2 linked regions of the Homo sapiens genome follow. The protein of the gene in region 1 purifies or fractionates together with the protein of each later gene. This does not show direct contact. Each region holds a gene or a part of one and is shown in the gene's direction. Other genes may lie near its edges. The genes, in order: NARF and LEF1.

What was found.
Region 2: the proteins of NARF (region 1) and LEF1 purify together in Homo sapiens (affinity purification with western blotting; 2 studies listed by BioGRID). This does not show direct contact.

The regions. Positions count from the first base shown.
Region 1 is NC_000017.11:82,461,662-82,465,475, forward strand, and holds part of NARF (nuclear prelamin A recognition factor), read left to right. Parts: intron 1-2,625; coding exon 2,626-2,769; intron 2,770-3,814.
Region 2 is NC_000004.12:108,046,951-108,050,707, reverse strand, and holds the end of LEF1 (lymphoid enhancer-binding factor 1), read left to right. Parts: intron 1-1,956; coding exon of another isoform or gene 1,957-2,036; 3' UTR 2,037-3,160; downstream 3,161-3,757. UniProt on the Homo sapiens protein: Transcription factor that binds DNA in a sequence-specific manner. Participates in the Wnt signaling pathway. Activates transcription of target genes in the presence of CTNNB1 and EP300.

The DNA.
Region 1 (3,814 bases):
CATTACATGTAAGCCTGGCCATTATCCCTGTTTTACTGAGTGAAGGGTGTTGGGAGAGGTTAAGGTCAGTCTACCCTTAGAAAGTACTAGTACCAGTTTATAAATGGAGAGTTGGCAATATGGCAGAAGCATATTTTTTCCTTAAGTTTAGTAGTCCTGACATGTTTAATCTGACAGGTGTTCTCCCGGTTGCCCTGTGTGCCAGTGCTGTGGGGACTGTGGGGCTTAGGGAGCAACAGGGCCTGAGACAAGCAGCCAAAGAGCTGGCCACAGGCAGAAGAGAGGTAGGGTGCATTGGAGCCCTGGAGGCAGCTGGGGCCAGTGCGCCTGAGTGGCCGACCCCAGGGGCCTCCCTCACCTGCCCTCTGGTTGTGTCGTTGTAGACAGATATCTAAGCCCTGTGAGCCTCGTTTCCTTATCAGAGGCCTGGGGAGTAGGGTTACCTCCCTCCCAGGACTGTGGTGAGGATGAGATAACGTGTGTACACAGCCTAAGTGGGCGCCCTGCCAGGTCAGTGATGGACACAGGGTGAGAGGAGTTGGGTTGGGGTTAATGGAGTGGACCCTGAAGAGTGGTCAGAATTCAGGGTGGGAGTGTAGGGAAGGGCACTGGCACACCAGGCAAGAGGAGGGTGTGGACAGACGTGCTCTAGGGAGAGACAGTGGCTCCCCTTGGCCAGGTCAATGACAGTGCAGAGCTGTGGAGACCGTGAGGGGGTGACTCAGGTGTTTGTTTTAGGGCAGGTGATGGAGGTAACCGACTTAAGCTGGCTAGAGTAGGGGAAGAATTGCAGGAAGCCACTTGGGTGGCAGCTTTGAGAGCCTAGGCAGAGGTGGTGGGCCTGGGCAAGTCTACCAGAGTGATAGAGACAGAACAGAGGACGTAGTGCAGGGAAGGGAGTGCAGTTTTAGCTCCACAGACACTGGGCCTTCTACGGTGTGTGAGTCTGGGGTTTGGTGAGAGCACTCCGCTGGAAGTGCAGGTGGCAGGGCTGCCCTGGGCTGAGTGAGGCCAGCAGGCCTGATAAAAGGGAACAGGACTTCTGTAGAATGCATCAGTGTGGAAGGCAGGAGGAATAAGAAGAAAGAATGTGAGGGGTGAGGAGGGAATCAGACCTGGACCATGAAAACTTATGGAAGGACTGGGTTATACACAGCATGTCTGGTGGCAAGGCAGGGAGGAGGCACTGCTGGGTGAGGGGGGCAGTTTGGTCATGGGCATCTCAGTGGGGATGGGCTGTGGAGGCACAATTCATGCAGCTATGGGCACCAGATGTTTGGAGTGGAGCTGTGGCTTTGACCCACTGGGAACTTGTTAGAAGCACAAACTCTTGAGCCCCATGCGGACCTCCTGAGTGCCCATCTGCAGCAGAACAAGATCCCAGGTTGAGTGGGCTGCACAGAGACATGGGGTCATGTGTAGGCAGGAGGCAGAGGTGACACCCGAGCTGCGGTTCGTAGCACGCTGTGGAAGGAGGAGGCACATCCATAGCCGTCTCCTGTCAAATCAAGTTTTAAAGAAAAACGAATGCATGGACTACCTGAGGAGCTTCTGTAATTTATTGACATTACTCCTGTAAGCTTCAGAGTATTCATATGTTCATCCACCAGTTATTTATTGAGCACTGTCTGTGTGCAGTACCTCTTGGAAGTGCTGAGGAACAAGAGAACAAGACAGTGTTCAAGCTCTCATGAGCTTACATTTTAGCGAGGAGGGACAGACTCCTGCTAGCAGTCAGCAACATAAGTACAGATGGGTGGGGAGGGAAGAGACGGGTGAGGGGGTGGTGCTGTTTTAGCAGGTGTTGGACATCGTCTCTGCTGAAGGCCACCCAGGGTGAGCCTGGGGCTCTTAGAGGTTGCTTCATGCAGAAGGATGGCGAGAGCAGCAAGGGCCAGTGGGGCTGGACGTGTGGAGACCAAGGGGGCTGTGATGGGACCCGGGCAGACAGGGGCCACTGGCTTTGCCCAGGCCCTCTGTGTGAGGGGCAGCTGTCTGAGCAGAGCAGAGGTGTGGTTTATGTTTTAGCAGATGTCGGGGAGCACAAGGGCCAGTCAGGAAGGAGAGGGTGGAGGGGATCAAAGAGTGACTCTACATCCAGGTCAGGATAAGCATCTTGTTACATGTCCGAGTGCAAACCCAGAGCCAGCACTGAGTTGTAAAGTTCTGAGCCTCAAGGGAGAGGCCAGGGCTGTGGGTGGCCTCAGGGAGCCGTGGGATGGTAAGAGGGGGCACAGAGCTAGAGGAGCAGTCAGAGGGCTGGATCACAGGCACCAAAGAGGAAGGGGTCTAGGAGGAAGGGGTCTAGCAGTGGGGTGAGCTTCCAGAACACAGGGGTCATTTACTTCCTACCACGTGACAGTGCTAGGGCTGGGTTCCACCCTTGTCATCTGCATGGTTCCCTAGTGTCATTGTGGGCTGGGCCCTGTGTCCTGTGTCCCTTCACCACCTTGAGCTGCTCAGTGGCAGAGACTGTCCTGCTTCCAGCCCCTTGAGCACCAGGCCTGGACCCTGGTATTATCTCCAATGTTTACTGTGAATTCTGTATATGGGTGTTACCCTCTCTAAAGAAGCACATTAAAGAGTATTTGTTGAATAATCATGCTGAAACGTCATCTTTCATAGAAGGGAGAATTCCACAAGTTGGCTGATGCCAAGATATTTTTGAGCGACTGCCTGGCATGTGACAGCTGTATGACTGCAGAGGAAGGAGTCCAACTTTCCCAGCAAAATGCCAAGGACTTCTTCCGCGTTCTGAACCTTAACAAGGTAAGGCATTCGGGGCATTTGCTGATGCTGGGGAGCTGACCTGGAGGAAGTGGAGGTGAGGCCTGGCTTCCTGCACAGAAGCCTCTGCTGGGACATCGGATGCACATCTCAGCCTTTTCCTGGTGTTGCTAACATCCTGCTTTGACCTTCCAAACCTCTCCATCAAGAGCAAAATCCCCGCACAATTTCCTGCTCCCTTAATAATGCTCAGGCAGTGGTGGGGGGCTGGCATCACCCCTCAGGCTCCTGTGGCTTAAGCGGGGCCTCTGCCTGGTGAGGTCAGGTAACACGGGTGTTGGTGATCATGCGGGCAGCACAGAGCCGGAGCTCCTGCTGTTCTGCCTCGGCTGCACGTTTTCGGACACGAGAGTTATGTTCTAATAGACCGATCAGCTTGGGGCAAGGCAGAGACACTCCAAGGAAGTAAAAATTCCCAAAGCTCCTTCCTTCAGCTCATCCCTGCAGACCTCCTATACAGAACGAGAGGTGCCACTTGTCTTTCCGTGAGACAGGTTGTATTAGTCCATTCTCACATTGCTACAAAGAACTACGTGACACTGGCTAATTTATAAAGCAGAGAGGTTTAATTGACTCACAGTTCCACAGGATCTACAGGAGACATGGCTGGGGAGGCCTCAGGGAACAACCATGGCGGAAGGGTGAAGGGGAAGCAAGCATGTCTTCACGTGGCAGCAGGAGAGAGCAAGTAAAGGGGGAGGTGCTGCACCCTTGTAAACAACCAGATCTTGTGAGGACTCACTCACTATCATGAGAAGAGCAAGTGGGAGATCCGCCCCCATGACCCAGTCACCTCCTGCCAGGCCCAGCCTTCAGTTTCACATGAGATTTGGGTGGGGACGCAGAGCCAAACCATATCACAGGTGAAAGAGAAAGAGACAAAGGCAGATGAGGCTGAAAAGCACTTCTTGGTTTCCATGCTGTCACCTCCACGGGAAGCACCGGCATCCTACCCTGCCCAGGGTGTAGGAGCCCATTCACAGTAGGTAGTGTGCTAGAGCAAGGTAGGGGCCTCAAGAAACACTGA
Region 2 (3,757 bases), on another chromosome or scaffold:
GCAAGGCCAGGCCTCACCAGGAAACTAAATGTTTTCATGTCAGACTGAGAGGAAAACCTTCCCAGGAAGAGCAACCTGGACCAAGCCTTTGAAAATCTGTGATGCAAAATTATAATGTAAATAGGAATCTGTGGGGTGCCCTCTCTCCCACCCCAGGCTCTGCTAGAGCCCTGTTTCTTTCTCCGTAGAAAGGCAGGGTCCTTCGTAGCTCTTTGATCCTCCTGCGTGCAAGATCCATACCTCTGTGGGCCTGGCACAGCGAACTGTGAAGTACTGAGGTACAGACAACTTCCATGGCCCTGCTGTGGCCCCATTCTCAAGCAGGGCTAACACCTCCAATCTAGAGCACCCTGCACTTCCGGCTCCACCAGTCTTCTTGTCCCTTCACTGCCTTACCTAAGGGTGCCTTCTCCTCCTCTCTTAAGCTGAGTACAAGTGATAATATAGTGATTAACACAATGCTGTAGTGTTTTCCTGTTAAACAGGGAATGGTTGATTTTCCAGGAGAATAGAAAATGAAATTGTCATTGGAGGACCTCCTCAGTTGAAATCATTCTGTGGCTGATTTCCTCCTATTTTGTTTTTTGTTGGTTGGTTGGTTTTTGCTTTTTCAGTAGCTACCCAGGTATACAAATAGCTTCTTTGCAGTTCTGATCATCTTTAGGGGCCGCATTGGGCATAATTGGAATAATAATACTAGCTAACCTGCTTGCAGGGCTTGCTCTGTGCTGTGCACTTTGTGAGCACTTTAAATATAGGAGCCAAACCTCTCTTTCCAAAAGCCTGAAGGGCAGGTGTCCTCGCAGTTCCCATTCCATAGATCACCATCCTTCCATGGAAAGTACTCTGTGGACTGTAACTTGCCATCTAGACTTTTGTATTCATTATTAAACTATGTCAAAGTTTCCTTTTATTTCTCTTTTACTTTCTTTTTCCATTGAAATGAAAGTGTACGATAATCCACCATTATTTAGAATGAGTTTCTAAAAGGAAACTTGTGCTTGTAACACGGATAGCACAATCACAAGCACAAAGTGTTGGGATTCATCTGAGGCTGTCAAGGGACCCAGGTTGAGAAGGTGCTTCCAGCATCGCTGCCACCAAAGGAAAGCAGCCTCCCCAAGTTCAAAGCAGCGGAAGCAGGTGCTCTCTGGAGTGAAGGAACGGAACTTTGCCATGCTTTTACTTTCCTTTTGTCTTTGTCTCATCTTGTTACAATGTTACATTTTACTTTTAATCACTTTTTAAAAAATCTCAGATCATTAAAGCTTTGAGGATGTGGGAGTTCTCTTATTTGAAAATCATTATCACCAATATCTGGCAACATTATTTTAACATATTTGCTGAGTGTCCTTTCCGAGGCTATCATTAGAGATCCTTGATGTTAGGAAGGAAAAAAAAATCTTGAAAATTGTAAGATCTTAAGGAAAAAGGGAGCGGTTTGTATCCTCTGGGCTGTGAGTGTGAGCGGACAGAGCACATAGCGTCACGGGAGTTGGCAGTGCGTTGGGTAATGTGATTATGTCTGTCCTATGTAGAATCATACAGTGGCTTCCCACAGTGGACCAAAAACACCAAACACTGCAGAATGACACATCTTTCCCTGATCTGGCTGTTGCCCGCCTTCCCTATTCATGTTTGCCTGTTTCCTACTGGTGTTTTTCAAACTTTTTTTTTGTTCTGTTTACCATGACCCAGAGTATTCACTACACTTCACATCATAACTCTGGGCATACGTATACATGGAACCAAAGTAAAAATGTCACTATATTAACTCTGTAGTGTACTCTCAGGATTTTTGACTGATAGGGCAATTCATTTTAGCCATCCCCAAATTAACAAAATGGATTAATTAAATGCAGAGGTTGTAAGACATATATGGTATGGAATAGAGGTTATAATCTTAAGGCCTACGGCAAATTCATATTAATAGCATTTCATTTGTTCCTTCTTGAGGTGGAAAACGAAGCTCATTCCCAACGTGCAAAGCCAAGGCAGCGACCCCAGGACCTCTTCTGGAGATGGAAGCTTGTTGAAAACCCAGACTGTCTCCACGGCCTGCCCAGTCGACCCCAAAGGAACACTGACATCAATTTTACCCTGAGGTCACTGCTAGAGACGCTGATCCATAAAGACAATCACTGCCAACCCCTCTTTCGTCTACTGCAAGAGCCAAGTTCCAAAATAAAGCATAAAAAGGTTTTTTAAAAGGAAATGTAAAAGCACATGAGAATGCTAGCAGGCTGTGGGGCAGCTGAGCAGCTTTTCTCCCCTCATATCTGCGTGCACTTCCCAGAGCATCTTGCATCCAAACCTGTAACCTTTCGGCAAGGACGGTAACTTGGCTGCATTTGCCTGTCATGCGCAACTGGAGCCAGCAACCAGCACATCCATCAGCACCCCAGTGGAGGAGTTCATGGAAGAGTTCCCTCTTTGTTTCTGCTTCATTTTTCTTTCTTTTCTTTTCTCCTAAAGCTTTTATTTAACAGTGCAAAAGGATCGTTTTTTTTTGCTTTTTTAAACTTGAATTTTTTTAATTTACACTTTTTAGTTTTAATTTTCTTGTATATTTTGCTAGCTATGAGCTTTTAAATAAAATTGAAAGTTCTGGAAAAGTTTGAAATAATGACATAAAAAGAAGCCTTCTTTTTCTGAGACAGCTTGTCTGGTAAGTGGCTTCTCTGTGAATTGCCTGTAACACATAGTGGCTTCTCCGCCCTTGTAAGGTGTTCAGTAGAGCTAAATAAATGTAATAGCCAAACCCACTCTGTTGGTAGCAATTGGCAGCCCTATTTCAGTTTATTTTTTCTTCTGTTTTCTTCTTTTCTTTTTTTAAACAGTAAACCTTAACAGATGCGTTCAGCAGACTGGTTTGCAGTGAATTTTCATTTCTTTCCTTATCACCCCCTTGTTGTAAAAAGCCCAGCACTTGAATTGTTATTACTTTAAATGTTCTGTATTTGTATCTGTTTTTATTAGCCAATTAGTGGGATTTTATGCCAGTTGTTAAAATGAGCATTGATGTACCCATTTTTTAAAAAAGCAAGGCACAGCCTTTGCCCAAAACTGTCATCCTAACGTTTGTCATTCCAGTTTGAGTTAATGTGCTGAGCATTTTTTTAAAAGAAGCTTTGTAATAAAACATTTTTAAAAATTGTCATTTTATTAAGAGTGAAGTTCCTGATAATCTAAAATTGCTAATGAACTGAATCCACAGGCCAGGGCAGAGCTGGTTTGTAGAGAGGAACAGTTTGTGTGAGAGGGGTGCTGCTGGTGCAGCCTTCTCCAGGGACAGGCCAGAACCGGCTGTAAATGGGCACCTTGCCCTGTCTCCTAGACATGCAGTCCTCAAAAGTACTTGTATGGCTTGGGCCTCTCCCTCCTTTTCCAGGTGGTATGAAACAGGGTCAAAGGAAAAAAGAGGGTTGCCAGGATTCAGATGGGAGTGAGTCCTTTCCTGAACACAGATCCTCATGGGCTCCCACCATCTGGTTGTCGTGCTCATTGAAAGTCCACAGGTACCGCCTCTCTTCATAGCTCATTGGTATTCAAACTGGGCTTCCACATTGTGGGGTCCCAGTGGAGAAGGTATGTCTTAACACCCCCACCCATCTCCCCAGTCAACATTTTCTAAGTCCTGAGCTGTATTTCATAATTTTTACCTTACTAGTACATGTTATAAGTTGGTATCTGATTAGGAAAAAGTATATTTAAATTTAAAAGAATATGTCATGGTCTTCCACGATGGTTTTCTATC